2 linked regions of the Homo sapiens genome follow. The protein of the gene in region 2 binds, or shares a complex with, the protein of the main gene of each other region. Each region holds a gene or a part of one and is shown on either strand. Other genes may lie near its edges.

Region 1 (7,895 bases), on a different chromosome or scaffold from region 2:
GCATCCAAACAAAACAAAATGAGAAATGACATGCATGTAGGATAAGCAGACAATCCCTTATTTGGACCAAGATACTGTAATGAAAGAAAGCAGAGCTGACCTTGGGTAAAACAACACAGATCTTTTCAGAAACTGTGAACCAGATCAAACTTTGAAAACATCTTTTACTATAGCATTTCCACTTCCAGGTAGGATAGAGAAGACTGTGGCAAACCTGTGCTCCTGCTGAAAATAACTAGAAATGCCAGATACAATTTTAAAATGTTGCATTGAAAAATGTTGAAAAGCACACAGAAATCAAGTTGAAGGAACTCCTAATTGCCAAAGCTAAGATGATTTGAGCAAAATAAATGACAGTATTGGACTTTAACCCACAGGATAAGATAAATAACCGTGAGTCTATATTGATATTTACAGTTGACTAAATAAATAAATGAGGGAAGAGGGACAATACTTTCTTATAGAAGAAATTCAATTACTAGATGTAGAAGAAAACAGACAAATAAAAAATCACCATTAGGTGATTTTTTAACCATCCAAAGATGGATGTTAAAATTAGTGAGTAAAAGCTGGAGGAAAAAGAGATTTGCATAGTATCAAGTTACCTCCCTACAAGACATTTTCACAGAGAAAAATAGTTTCCCTGAAGACATCCAGTGGACACCACCTTACTCAAGTGATCAAGGTTGTCACCCAAAATAAAATTATGAACCTCTTGATAAGATGCACTAAGAACAACACATTGTTTCTAATGTACTCTTGCCAAAAATGTCTAATCTCATTCTAATAAGGAGAAAACATCAGACGAAACTCCATACTGAGGGACAGGTTACAAAATAAGTGACCAGAGGACTTCAAAAGTGTTAAAGCTATTAAGAACAAGGAAAGCCCGAGAGGAACTATCATAGAATGCAGAAAACTGAGAATACAATTAAATGCTAGCAGAATCCTGAAATAAGAAAAACGACATTAGTGGTAAAACTGGTTTTCAAATCACATCTGTAGTCTAGTCAATAATGCTGTTCCAATGCTAATTTCCTAGTTTGATAAATGAACCAGTGTTATGTAAGATGCTACCATTAGGGGAAGTTGGAATGAAGAGTATATGGAAATTCTCTGTACTGTTTTTGCAACTTTCCTAAATCTAAAATTAGCTCAGAATAAAAGGTTACAGTTACAAAGTAAAAAATATAAAGGCATCAGAGAGCTAGTGGAAAAACAAGTACTAGAGGGGCCAAGATGCAGGAGAAAGCAGAAACATTGAGAAGTAAGTGATGTTCTACAGCTACTTTCTCCCTGGGAGCATCTGCTGATTCAGGGATGCTACTGAGGGACAGAGACACCAGAGGTCTGGTAGCCTTGCAGGGCTAGAGAGACAAGAATGGGACTGGTTATTTGCAATACATATATGTACAAAAGATATCATATCTAGAATATGTAAAGAAAACCTACAAATCAACAGAGAAAACAACTTAACTAAAAAAAATTGGTAAAATACTTGAACAGCCACTTGACAACAAAAATCCAAATGGCCAATAATGGATAAAATGGCATTTAACTTCTCTAGTTGAAATGCAAATTAAAACTAAAACCGCCATGCAGTACCATTACACATCCACCAGAATGGCTGAAATGAAAAAGACGGTCAATTTGAAGTATTAATGAGAATGGGAGCTAATGAAACTCTTATACATGGCCGGTGGGAGTGTAAATAGGAATAACCACTTGGAAAACTGACAGTATTCACCAAAGCTAAATATATGCACATCTTATGACACACTGACTCCACCTATAGGTACATACCCAGTAGAAATGTGAATAAATAAATAAGGTCATCAAAAGATATGTACAAGAATATACATGGAAATATCACTTGAAAATCTAAAGTCTGTTGAGCAAAAATGATAAATATATATTGTGGTATATTCATATAGTAGGAAACTACATAGCAATATTACTGAATTAACTATAACTAAATGCAGTAATGCATCTAAATCTCACAAACATAATGGTAAAAAAATAAGCCAGACATAAAAAGGAGTCCATAATACATAATGCTAAAGGTAAAAACAGGCACAATTAATTTATGAAATTACAAATCAGAATAGTAGCTGCCATGAGGATGGAAGGAGTAGTAACTGGGAGAGGAAACACAGAGAACTTCTGGGGTACCGGTATATCTTGATTTGTGTGCTAGCTATGAGGATGTGTTCCCTTTATAAAAATTCATATAGCATCTGAGATCCACAATGAATGTATGATATATCTCAATTACAAACAGCTTTAATATTAAAAGTAAAAAACTAAAATTTATTTAAAATAAAAACATCAGGATAGCTCCTATAAACTAGATTACAAACATTATGAATGGATGGTTCATATCAGTCATCACTCAGATAAGTATCTGCGAATGAAATATTTTCATTTCTATGATGAGGATGTCAAAAGGTAATCCCAGCATTATAAATGTTGTATTACAGACTGCAAGAATGATAGATGGGACCATTTGTATTAATTGTGGCTTTTAAACAACTGATCTCTAAGACAAATAAACAATCAAATTATTTTCTTCCTTCATATATATCAGCAACATATTTATTAGAAAAGAGCAAGCCAAATTACACATAAGCTTCAATACCTGAGGCAGAGCTATGACTACTGATGGATGAAGAGTCGCTCTCTTCACTGGAAGACTCTGAACTGCTATCACTGCTGTCAGAATCAGAGTCGGATGAGTCAGACTCTGAAGAGGAGGACGCTGAAGAGGAAGAGGATGGGGAGGATTTATTTTGCTCAACATCTGGTTTCTGCGCCACAATGACCTTTGGTGTATTTTTGAGATGCTCCCGCAGTTCATCCCTAATTTAAAATATAATCTGTTAGATTCTATTTCAAAGACAATTATGAGATAATTTTATAATCTGAACATAAATTCTGAGAATAATCCTTACGTTAAACCTCCAAGACCTATAGAAGTAAAGAAGTTGATGGCAAACCGAGTGTTTCTTGGATTATCTCGGGGTAATAATCCTTCAAAGAATGGCTGCAGAGTTCTAAAAAGGAAAAAAATAAACAAAAGAGAACACATTGCTTAAAGATAAAAAGGTAAAATCCTTAGTCATTTTTCAGATTTTTCATATATTAAATTACTAAATGAAATACAACCAAGTAACTAGTTGATGTCATTTATTAGGTTAGGCTACGTGCTATCTAAATGAAATGAGTAGGGTCAAGTAATAATGTACCAAACTTGATTTCTATCATTATACAATGTAGGAGGTTTTTAAAAAACTTTTTTTACACACACACATATAGAAAGATAAATATATACACATATATACACGTGTGAATATATATAGTGTATATATATACACACACGTATATATAGTGAATATATGTACAAAAAATTTTAAAAACCTTCTCTGTTGTGTATGTACACGTACACACACATACATAGAACTGTGCCAAGTACTGGGGGAGAGGTGGAAGTCATCAACAAAAGGGAGAAATCAAGGATGAAGACCATATAATTACAATATATATGGAGTGAGACAACCAGAAAGACACTAACAATACAAGGTGGTTTTGGACATTTGGTTTTCAGCACCACACTGAGTAACTACTCAGTGGAGTCAGAAAAAACTTTCTCACAGAAAAAGGTACAATATAAGAAGAATGATTAAGAGTTTCCCAGATAGATCAATAAGACAGGAGAATGCCAGCAGTGGAAACTGAGGTAAGGAAGCATGAAAGAGCCAGATATGTTTAACAAGCTTGGCAGTGTTGGTATGGCTGGAGTGCAGCTTGCTGAAGAGAGAGAAGACGAGCCTGGTCAAGTAGACAGGGACCAAATAAGTAAGTATATGAAGCCAAGAGAAGTGGATGGAATAGTCCAGAGACAGTGTGTGGAACCCAGGAACACTGAAGAGGCAGGCTGAGGAGAAGACTGAGAGAGGAAGTGAGAAGAAAGTATGGAGCCACAGTGAGTAGGTAGTCAACTGCATAAGTGAGGCAGAGAAGTGAAGAGGCATGCAGCCTGAGAAAGACAACTGAATATGGCAGGTGGTCACTGAGAAATCTGAAAGGATGATTTCAGTAGTGTCAATGGAGTAGAAGTCAACCTAAGTGGCAATCTGAACAAACAGGAAATAAGAAAGGTGAGAGGGGATTACATAATAATCCTGAAATAAGGCTCTAGTTCTATGTAATATTTTGAACAATTATTAATAGATGAAATATATACTCAAAACTGTCCACTGATAATATTAGTTATCATTCTAAGGCTTAAAATTAGGGTAAAAAGAAAATAAAATTATAAATATCACTGGAGAATTCAAGTGAGCATACAAAAACAATTCTGTATTTTCTAAGAAAATCTAAAAAGGCATTAATTTGAACTCCACTTAAACTAAAAACCACCACTAAAAGTTGCATGTTGTCCTGTGTGACATAACATGAAATTCACAGTGATTAATGGATGAAGAAAGTCTCAGGGGGCTTAGCTCTTGTTTTTACAGTCTCGGATGGGCTTATGTCTGCTACAATGGGAGAAAACCAGAGGTCAATAAGAATAAAAAGTGCTTAATGGCAAACTTACTCATCCTTTAATCTTGCATTAAGTTTAGGAAGACCCATGTATTCACACAGTTCCTGGAAAAATATTTTGACAAAAATTCTACTGGATGATGTAGTGGTTTCTTCACTCAGTTTTATACATTCAAGAACCTGAAAATTAAAATAAAAAAAGACAAGTATATTTTAATTTATAAAAGACAGGACATAGTGACCAATATTTGTAGGTTTAAGTGTTTCTCAAAATTACTATTTATTCCCATCTTCAACCAGAGTTATCTCTGAATATCTCCCCTTATGCTGACATAAAGTTTAAAACTACTTCTCTATACTAACTTTCAAAATGTTAAGATGCGACAGAAATAGATTTCATTCTCTGTTTTGAGTAATGTGCTTTTTATAGCAGGGAAGATATCCTCTCTTGAGCATATAATGGTAAAGATTACTAGCTCCTAAACCTTACTCATCAAAATGTGGTGTATATGAAGGTTTGGGGCAAAATGCCACTTAGCACATTAGGCTACAATTTTGTTTAGCACACATAACATACGATTTAAAAAAAGACAGAAAGTATAATGGTTTATTCTGAATATTAAGACTGTGGCTTAAAAACTGAAATGCCTAAAGAAATATTTTTAGGGAAAATAAAAATAAAAGTAACCTCTAGTTTTTATGGGTTATGTGTTTGGGGGGCCCATTAGTTGGTTAATTGTTTAAAATTCTCACTTCATTTTCTCAAAGAGGGGAAAAAAGAAGTCAAAAATTATTACAATTAGTCTCCTAGGTTAGATTACGAATGCCTATTAATGTAGCTGGACATACTTGGTACTTAAAGTACTATAAAAATCTAACCAATGTTTTTAAGTTTGAGATATTGCCTCATTCTACCATTAGTAGGATGGCATTCTACAAGATAATCCTGTTCTTTCCTCCTGGATGTAATTTCTCATCCTTCTCTCTTTCTTTCTTTCAAATTCCTTTAGTAATTTTGCTTTTCTTAGAATCTAAGACTTTTTATTTTGTATCATTGCTATGGGCATATCTTACCTCTGGTCTTATACTGTAACCCTCTTGAAAGGAGGGGCCATGTATAATTCACTCTGAATACACAGCACCTCTCTCAATGACTCAGTATATAAGTGGTGGCTAACTAACACTGGTTGAAAAACAGCTGTAAAATCAATGCCAGCTTAATGAACGCCTTTCAAATTTCAATCCAGTGCACATTTCCCTATCAAGAATATATCTTTCTTTGTTCTATGACTATAGGATATCCTCTCTATAGCTTACCCAACTTCAATGTCTGCTAAAAAGAACACATCCTTCTAGAACAATCATTTTTTCTCAAACCCAACAAGAGAACCATGGAGAGTTATTCCCTCAGGAATCAAGGGAGAGTAATTCAGAGACACATTTACCACCAAAATAGTGGCATATGTGGATGTGAGTGTGCATGCACGTGTGTGTACACAGAGAAGATGAAAATCTGCAGTACTTTTCCTGAAGACACTCCTAGCCATCACTATCGAAACACTGGCATGTTTGGACTGTTAATATAATACAAAGATAGTATTTCTTGTATATTATTTACCTAGCTTTCTGATTCCTTATAACATGATGATAATCTCAAAGACAGCAGTTCTACACATTTCATTTTAAAGCACATTTCATAATAGGATAAATATGGCTAGCTTATACGAAAATCTATTTGAGAACAGGGAATTAGGAAGGAAGTATAAATATTGACCCATGTACTTACACTCCATGGAAGTGAATCAGTGTATAAAAGGTGAGCAAACATCTTAGCAACATTTCGCAACTTGTTTGTTTCCAAGCGATGGATGGTATCATACTGTTCTTTGAATATACCTTCAAAGGATTCCATGTACTCTTTCTTTAGCATGCAAAATCGCTAATAAATAAAAAATCAGTACCATTAAAAATTGAATGTTAATACAATTATGAGCATATTAAATCCTAAATTTACTGAATCAAAACTTTATTAATATGCTTTATATTTTCAAAGAGCATATATCACTAAATCCTTTTGTGCCATATGATGCTCAAAAAAGAAGTTAATATATATGGTTTCTAATTACCTGAGATTTACATGTTAAAACAAAATCATACATGTAGGTGATCACATGAGGGTAGAGCTTAAAGAAATATTTTAGATCATGCTTTAATTGTGCTGCCTGAACATGTACTTGACTTTAGACACTGCTTTGAGATTTTGAAAAGACAGCATTTACTTGTCGTCTATTGGGAAATCATTACAAATCATGGAAAATTCCAAAAAGCTCTGGAAAAGTGATATGCAAAGTTAAAGCACTGCAAAAATGAAGTAGAAAAAGAGGAAGGTGAAGAGAGTGGGAAACCTGAGGAAGGAGAGAATAATTTGCTTTTAGCAAAAGTGGTAATATGTTTTTAAATGAGACCAGACCATAAAGCAGAAATCATTAATTTACAATATTCGTTTTAAGAATTCCCTCAGTAGAGGCTGGAACTCACCCCAGCTAATAAGCCAAAAAATTTTTCGTATGTCCTCTGTTGGGCACAGCAATCAAGTATCATGTTGCAGAGTTCTTTCTATTTGGGAAAAAAAATACATTAATGATTCAAAACACAAAGAGACTAAATATTGTATAATTTACCAGTATGATAGTGACTGCCTGCATTTTTAAATAAGGGTTTAAAACAGTTCAAAAATTTTGTAAATAAAATAAAAACCTCAATCTATGTTAAACTCATCATTTTTTACAGGCTTGGGTCTGGCTGACAGCTTCCACAGTCATTTATGCTAATTACATTAATTATAAAATTCTAAATTCATGATAAGTATGAACCACATCAAGAAAATCTAGTATAGGAAACAGACATATGAGGGAGAGATTTAATACACTGCATTCTTAAAGGATTCTATGCAGAATTCTTTTAAATATAGACTCACCAACACAACATCTAACAATTCAGTTACATATGTCCCAAGGATATGAATTCAATTGCTAAGGAATATATTTAGCATGGAAAAGGCAGATCATTATTAGTCTTTACAGAGGCATAAGTAGGTACAACTTCAACGTTAACATAAAGTTAACGTTGATAAAGAAACATCAAAAAACACCTCTGTGGATGAATTTTCTCACCTCAAAATAAATGTTATTCATATAGACCTATCTATATGGATCTATACAAATAAATGGAATCATTCCATAACTGCTAGTATATTATTCCAATTAGCTATTCAGGCGCCATGTAAACCTCTCTGAAAATTCTGTTAAACTAATGGATAAATGCCCAGTCAAGAAATACTATCATCACAG
Region 2 (7,895 bases):
ACCTCTGCCTCCTGGGTTCAAGCGATTCTCTTGCCTCAGCCTCCTGAGTAGCTAGGATTATAGGCGTGCACCACCATACCTCGGTAATTTTTTGTATTTTTATACTTTTAGTAGAGACAGGGTTTCACCTTGTTGGCCAGGCTGATCTTGAACTCCTGGGCTCAAGCGATCCATCCACCTCAGCCTCCTAAAGTGCTAGGATTACAGGCATGCACCACTGTGCCCAAGCTTATAGTATCTATATTCCAAGAGTGAGCTCACAATCAAATGAGTCCTTTAACTTGTCCTGTACCCTGAGCAGAAAAGCAAGGCTGAAAAGTGAAATGGTTCCCACCTCAGTCAACTCAGTTCCCACCTTAACTCGCAGCTCATCATACCACTTATGATTTCATCTTTCTATTAAGTACTTGAAATGGTTTTTATTATACCCTAAATTTTGGTAAATATTGGGTTTGTTTCTAGCTTCCCTACTGGTTCACCCATCCCTTTCCCTTGTCCTTGTCCCAGGACTGCACCAGAAGTAGAGGATGGAACAATGATCTTCCCACCTTCTGAAGGCAACTTTCTCATATGGTACAGAACTGGTACCAGCCTGGGGGATGGGAGGAGTCCCATGGGTCAGTCATCATCTGTGTCACTAGGGCCCATGTACTGGCAGATGGCATCGTAGTGAAGCTCCACCACCTGATTTTCTCTTGGCAGTTGCACCAAAGCCCGGCTCCGTGCTCTGTCCCGGCTCAGCAAATGTCCCACCTGGAACAGAGGTGAAGTGGAATCAGCAAGGCAAGCCTAGACCCTGGGACAGGCCCTGAACGACCCACAAACCTCTACTGCCAGGTCTGAGACTCACCCTTCCAGTCTGTGGGCCCAGCACCACCATCACACGGTCACCCTCTGCCTTGGGAACCAGGGTCTCCAGCATGTCTTCCCTCAGGCCTATGGATAAGGGAGAGGGGAGTGAGGCCCACAGCAAGGACCAGCCCAACCAGCGTCCTGTCAGAAGGGCCTTTCCTGGCCAGGCGTGGTGGCTCACACCTGTAGTCCCAGCACTTTGGGAGGCTAAGTTGGGAGGATCGCTTGAGCCCAGGAGTTCGAGACCAACCTGGGCAAGATGGTCAGACCTCATCTCTACAGATTTTTTTGTTTTGTTTTTTGAGACTGAGTTTGGCTCTTGTTGCCCAGGCTGGAGTGCAATGGTGTGGTCTTGGCTCACTGCAACCTCCGCCTCCTGGGTTCAAACGATTCTCCTGCCTCAGCCTCCTGAGTAGCTGGGATTACAGGCACCCACTACTGCGTTTGGCTAATTTTGTATTTTTAGTAGAGATGGGGTTTTGACATGTTGGTCAGGCTGGTCTCAAACTCCTGACCTCAGGTGATCCACCCTCCTCGGTCTCCCAAAGTGCTGGGATTACAGGCATGAGCCACCGCGCCCAGCCTACAAAAAATTTTAAAATTAGCCAGGCATGGTGGTCAGTGCCTGCAGTCCCAGCTACTCAGGAGGCTGAGGTGAGAGGATGGCTTGAAACCAGGAATTTGAGGTGGCAGTGATCCATGATGGTGCCACTGCACTCCAGCATAGGTGATAAAATGAGACCCAATCTCAAAAAAAAAAAAAGAAAAAAAAAAAAAAGAAGGGCCTTTCAGCTGGGTGTGGTGGCTCATGCCTGTAATCCCAGCACTTTGGGAGGCTGAGGCAGGAGGATCACGAGGTAAGGGGTTCAAGACCAGCTTGGCCAATATGGTGAAAACCTGTCTCTATTAAAAATACCAAAATTAGCTGGGTGTGGTAGCGGGCACCTGTAGTTCCAGCTACTCAGGAGGCTGAGGCAGAAGAATAGCTTGAACCCGGGAGGCGGAGGTTGCAGTGAGCCAAGATTGCGTCACTGCACTCCAGCCTGGGTGACAGAGTGACTCTGTTTCAAAAAAAAAAAAAAAAAAAAAAAAAAAAAAAAGAAGGGCCTTTCCTGTATTCCCTGGAGCCACTCTACACCCTGTTGACAGATGGGAGTCCCGCCACATCCATTTCACAGATGAGGTAGCCTAAGGAGTAGTTTACAAAAATCACTGTAATAAAGGGTGGTGGTGATAACAACAGGCACCTTTTATTGTGGGCATGTTTTAACCCCTGCCCTGCACTGAGAGCTCAATACACATTCCTTCACTAAGGCACCAATCACAAGAGGAAGAAATAGTAAATTCCATGCTAATTTGACAGACCGGAGGCCGAGCGCGGTGGCTCACGCTTGTAATCCCAGCACTTTGGGAGGCCGAGGTGGGAGGATCACTTAAGGTCAGGAGTTCCAAGACCAGCATGGTCAACATGGTGAAACCCTGTCTCTACTAAAAACACAAAAATTAGCCAGGTGTGGTGACGCTTGCCTGTAATCCCAGCTACTCGGGAGGCTGAGGCAGGAAAATCGCTTGAACCTGGGAAGTGGAGGTTGCAGTGAGCTGAGATCACGCCACTGCACTCCAGCCTGGGTGACAGAGTGAGACTCTGTCTCAAAAAAAAAAAAAAAGAAAAAAAAGAAAACTTGACAGACTGGGAGAGTGGGGCTCAAGATAACCAACCACCATCATGGAAGTGTCTAATGTTCTGTAAGAGGATGCTAGGCCTTGCAAAATACCTGAACTCTGCCAAACCTCCCAGCTTTGCCTGGGCCAGGCTCTGGGCCTAAAACACTCTTCTTGATCAACCTCCAGCTGCCATCGCTCAAACTCACCTTCCAGGACTCGGCCTTCATCTGTCCGACATACACAGGTATCTGGGCTTAGGACATCTTCAATTATCATCTGGGGATACAGGTCAGGGGGATGTGAGATTTTAGAGAGGTAGGGGGGCCCAGTCCCTAGGAGAGGGAGGGGGACTCAGGCTGCAGGGTTCCCACCTTGGTGTTGTAATATTGGCCTCCTTTGTACATGTTGTCCACAAACCGCACACGCAGGTCCCTGTGCAACCAGTGCTGACTTCTGGGGGCTGCTTTCTCACTCTTGGCTGCAGGCCCATCCTGTCTGTGGAGAAGGTGCCAGCACCAGGCTTAGCTCTTCATCAGATGCACTTTCCAGTTGCCCTCCCTTTGCCTATGCTATGAAACCCACCCACAATGCAGTTCCCCGTTCCTTCTATGAGCCCGCCTTGCCTTGGAAGCCTTCCCTGGCTGCTCGAGCCTACCCACAGCCCTGCCTTCTTGACCCCTCCCGCATGCTCAGAGTCCCACCGGTCTGGAAGGTGTTTCCGCTTCCTCTCTGAGTTGTCCTGCTGGATGTAGAGTTCTTGATTCCAGAGGGTCTTCCGTGATGAGGCAGTTCCGTTCTGTTGCCCTGGGGAAGGAAGTTTTGCTCATCTGGCCTGTTCAAGAGGTTATGAGGAGAACCAGGACAGAGCCTCAGTGTCTCACTGCCCTTTCCTTCCAAGGCCATGTCTCAGCCTAGAGCCACCTCCCACCTGCCAAAGTGCCCCTCTCACCCCTCATGCATTTGCTAGTAGAATGCCTCTCCCCCACCTCTCAACCATTTCAGCTTCCTTCAGGAACCCTCCCGCAGCCAACCTAGCCCACAACAACAATGCTCACCTAGTGTGGACTAGAGATTCCCAGAGAGCTCTGTCTGTACCCATTTGCCAAACTGCCCCGTCCTACCGAAACGCCTTCGCCTGTGCTGTTCTGTCTGCCTAGAATTCCTTCCTTCTTGGTCACACCCTAATCCTAGCAGTTCTCACTCCCTAGTAAAAGAGAGGTTCATCACCCCAAATGGACAAAGATCTCGAAGGTAGGAATTGGTTTCTGCACCTGTTTCTTCTCACTCAGACAGGCTACAGACCCAGGGGTATGACATCGACCTTTCTCCAATCAAATGGAGTAAGTCACTTATGTCCATTCTCACCTCCTGACCTCTGATTGGAAGTCATATCTGCCAGGCACACTGCTGCCCCTCCCTGCTGCAGATCTAAAACCACCCCATTAGCCAGGCCCTGCCACCCCTAGGAATGCGTTGCCAACTCCCCTAGCTCTACAAGAGGCTCACTCACTGAGATCCAAGGTGTTCTTGTCAAACTCCTGCTGGGAGACAGGCCGCAGGTAGTACTCACTAACAGTCACCACCCGGCTCCCCACAGCCAGACGAACCATGGCCCGAACATTGTCAGGATCAAGGCCTTCCACCTAAAGTGTTGAGGGGAAGAAGTCAGGTAGGGGTTGTGGACTCCACCCACATTCCTAGGACCAAGATGTCAACCCCTTACCTCTAAGAGGCCTGCTTCCTCTGTCTCCCCAACCAGACTCTGACCCCTGAGAAGTGGGACCAGGTCTGGTTCCTGTGTCTCCCTCAGCTGACTGTGGGGCTTCCTTGGATCCTTTAAGCATTTAATCTTCAGGGACTTGTGGCATATGGCATTCTCTTCCTTTTAGCTGGGAACTGAGGCTCACAAAGGCCAGCAAGTGGTCCTGGGTTACTGAGTGAGGCAGTGGGCCAAGCAGACCTAAAAGACTAGGAGTCCCAGCCTTTCTACCTCAAATCCAATTATTCCTCCATCTGACCCTCGGATCAACCTTCCCTGCTGCCTGTTTTGGGCTCCCGGGATATCTTGGTTCCTTACCTTCCCATAGAGGCCTCGGTGAGGGCCAGAAAGAACCACCACAGCTCCTCCAGGCACCAGCCCTTGAGGCTGATCTTCCTTATCTTTCTCTTGCTCCTCATCTGGTCTTGGCATGCGGGAGGGGCCAGTGGGGGTCAAGGCCTGGGCCTCGGTCAGGTTGGCACCCAGCCCTAACCCCTTGGGCCTCAGTGAGTTGACACGGGGCTTCACTACTCTGCAGGGAGGAATATGGGTTTGTTGGAGAGGATGCAACAGTCTTCAACACCTTATTTACTTCCTCTTCCTGCCCAAACCCGCCCCACCCGCCCCATTGACATTTTCTTTTCTTTTCTTTTTTTTTGGAGATGGAGTTTTGCTCTTGTCATCCAGGCTGGAGTACAATGGCTCGATCTCGACTCAATGCAACCTCCACCTCCCAGGTTCAAGGGATTCTCCTGCCTCAGCCTCCCGAGTTGCTGGGGTTACAGGCGCATGCCACCATGCCCGGCTAATTTTTGTATTTTTAGTAGAGACAGGGTTTCACCATGTTGGTCAGGCCGGTCTTGAACTCCTGACCTCAGGTGATCCGTCCTCTTTGGCCTCCCAAAGTGCTGAGATTACAGGTGTGAGCCACCGTGTCCAGCCCCCACCAATATTTTCAAGGTTGCCCTTTCTGATCTCATATTAGGACTGTTTTTGACCTACAGAAACAGCAATTTCATTTGGTTCAACCTAATAACATGCTGCATATACCATCTATTACATAATATCTACAGTGAGATCAGAGGCAGATCGCTGTAACCAAATATACTATTTCTACAGGGGAAATCATATGAACATTCACACCGAGCAGGAGAAACCGGATTATAAATACTCAACATGGTTGGGCATGGTGGCTCATGCCTGTAATCCCAGCACTTTGGGAGACCGAGGTTGGTAGATCACCTAAGGTCAGGAGTTCAAGACCAGCCTGGTCAACATGGGGAAACCCCATCTCTACTAAAAATACAAAAATTAACCAGGCATGCTGGTGCATGCCTGTAATCCCAGCTACTCAGGAGGCTGAGGCAGGACAATCACTTGAACTCAGGAGGTAGAGGTCGCAGCGAGCCGAGATTGCGCCACTGCATCCCAGCCTGGGTGACAGACAGAGACTCCATCTCAAAAAAAAAAAAAAAAAAAAAAAAAAAACGCCAATTCAGGTCATATTTGGCTGCCAATGGGTTATGAAAAAATGTTTGGTTTTCAGAATTATTGAGTTTGCAATTGTGAAGAAAGGGTTGCAAGTCTGCATGACAATAGCAAATGTTTAGTCTACGCTTTCTTGGGGTCAGGGCCTACTGTATGTGCTTTATGTATATAATTTCTTTTCCTTTTCCTTTTTTTTTTTTTTTTTGAGACGGAGTCTCACTGTCACCCAGGCTGGAATGCAGTGGTGCAATTTCGGCTCACTGCAAGCTCCGCCTCCCAGGTTCACGCCATTCTCCTGCCTCAGCCTCCTGAGTAGCTGGGACTACAGGCACCCGCCACCATGCCCGGCTAATTTTTTGTATTTTTTTTTTTAGTAGAGATGGGCTTTCACCGTGTTAGCCAGGATGGTCTCGATCTCCTGACCTCGTGATCCACCCACCTCAGCCTCCCAAAGTGCTGGGATTATATGTGTGAGCCACCACACCCGGCCCTAATTTCTTTTCTTAAAATTAATTAATCTTTTGTAGAGATGGGGCCTCCCTATGTTGCCCAGGCCAGTCTCAAACTCCTGGAGTTAAGTGATCCTCCTGCCTCAGTCTCCGAAAGTGCTGGGATTACAGGCATGAGCCACTACCTGGCCTATGTGTATAATTTCATTTAACTCTCACAACAGACCTATGAAGTCAGTACTATTACCCCCATTTTTCAGATGAGGAAATTGATGTCCCTAGAGGCAAACTTTATATAAATGGGATTCTATTAGAGTTTCAAAGGGCAAATGGGAGTTTAAAACAGTAGTGGAAGGGGCTGCTGAATTAGTTAGGGCGATAATGTATCCTCCCTCCCTGCCTAGGTGGTTCTGGTTTGGCAGTGACCCTGGGGATCTTGATTGCAGCCTGATGATCTGTCTGTCCCCTCGACCCTATCCCAGAACTCACTGATTGAAGGTGCGGCCGATGCCCTCGCCAGGTTTCCAGCCCATGCCCCGCAGCATGGCCAGCCCATAGGCCTCCACGGGGACCGCCTCATAATTAGCCTCCTCTGGCACCTACAGGTTCAGGTAGAGGAAGGAGGGTCAGGCTTTGCTTACACTGGGTCTTCTATTTGAAGTGCACTTGCTGCCCCCCACTGGGAGACCTGCTACGCGTCTTTTCCAATCAGCTCAAGGGTGAGTTTTGATTTCCTCTTTCCATCCCTCACTGTACTCCTCCATGTTCAGTCCTTCAACAAATATAAAGCACCTTGTCTATGGCAAGTACTGTTCTAGGTACTGGGGATGAAGCTGTGAACCAAACAGACAAAAACCCCTACCCCTGCAGAGCTTCTGATCTAGTTGTGGAGACATACTATAAATAAAACCCAGAAAACATGATATGTCAGGTGGTGATGTAAAGAACAAGAAAACAGGGTAAGAAGATGCAGAGGGATGGAGAGGGAGTGCCACTGGGTTGACATTTAAGCAGAGATCAGGAGATGACAGCAGAGGGAGCCATGAGGATATGAGAAGAAAGTGTCCCAAGCTGAAAGCATAGTAACAGCAAAGGCCCTGAGGCCGGACAAGGCTTGGTATGTGTGAGGGGTATCATGAAAGTCACCATGACTGAAATGGAGAGAGTGAGAGTAGACAGCAGAGAAGGGTGGGGAAGAGACCAAATCAGGAGAGCTGGGCAGGAGTCAGAGGACCTTGAGCCAGGTGGGAGCCACAAGAGGGACCAGTGAGGAAATTACTCTAATAGTCCAGATGAGAGATGCTGGTGGCTCAGCCCTTTGCAGTGGTATTGGTGGTGGTGAGAAGTGGTCAGTTCTGGGTGTCATTTTGAAAAAAGATGATAGGATTGTGCTGGCATATTGTATGGGGCACGAAATAAAGAGAGGAATTGAGGATGACTCCAAGGTTTTCTTTTTTTTTTTTCTTGAGATGAAGTCTTGCTGTGTTGCCCAGGCTGGAGTGCAGTTGCATGATCTCAGCTCACTGCAACCTCAGTCTCCTGGGTTCAAGCGATTCTCCTGCCTCAGCCTCCCGAGTAGCTGTGATTACAGGCACGTGCCACCATGCCCAGCTAATTTTTGTATTTTTACTAGTGATGGGGTTTCGCCATGTTGGCCAGGCTGGTCTTGAACTCCTGACCTC

The links. Proteins that work in one complex are often made in the same cells at the same time.
Region 1: GPKOW (region 2) and CWC22 share a complex: the UniProt entries of both Homo sapiens proteins name them as parts of the minor spliceosome.

What each region holds. Positions count from the first base shown.
Region 1 is NC_000002.12:179,947,874-179,955,768, forward strand, and holds part of CWC22 (pre-mRNA-splicing factor CWC22 homolog), read right to left. Parts: intron 7,162-7,895; coding exon 7,084-7,161; intron 6,485-7,083; coding exon 6,332-6,484; intron 4,726-6,331; coding exon 4,598-4,725; intron 3,054-4,597; coding exon 2,952-3,053; intron 2,860-2,951; coding exon 2,639-2,859; intron 1-2,638. UniProt on the Homo sapiens protein: Required for pre-mRNA splicing as component of the spliceosome. As a component of the minor spliceosome, involved in the splicing of U12-type introns in pre-mRNAs. Promotes exon-junction complex (EJC) assembly.
Region 2 is NC_000023.11:49,113,003-49,120,897, forward strand, and holds the end of GPKOW (G-patch domain and KOW motifs-containing protein), read right to left. Parts: intron 6,813-7,895; coding exon 6,703-6,812; intron 4,809-6,702; coding exon 4,595-4,808; intron 4,161-4,594; coding exon 4,028-4,160; intron 3,322-4,027; coding exon 3,219-3,321; intron 3,013-3,218; coding exon 2,889-3,012; intron 2,794-2,888; coding exon 2,724-2,793; intron 937-2,723; coding exon 851-936; intron 754-850; coding exon 619-753; 3' UTR 405-618; downstream 1-404. UniProt on the Homo sapiens protein: RNA-binding protein involved in pre-mRNA splicing. As a component of the minor spliceosome, involved in the splicing of U12-type introns in pre-mRNAs.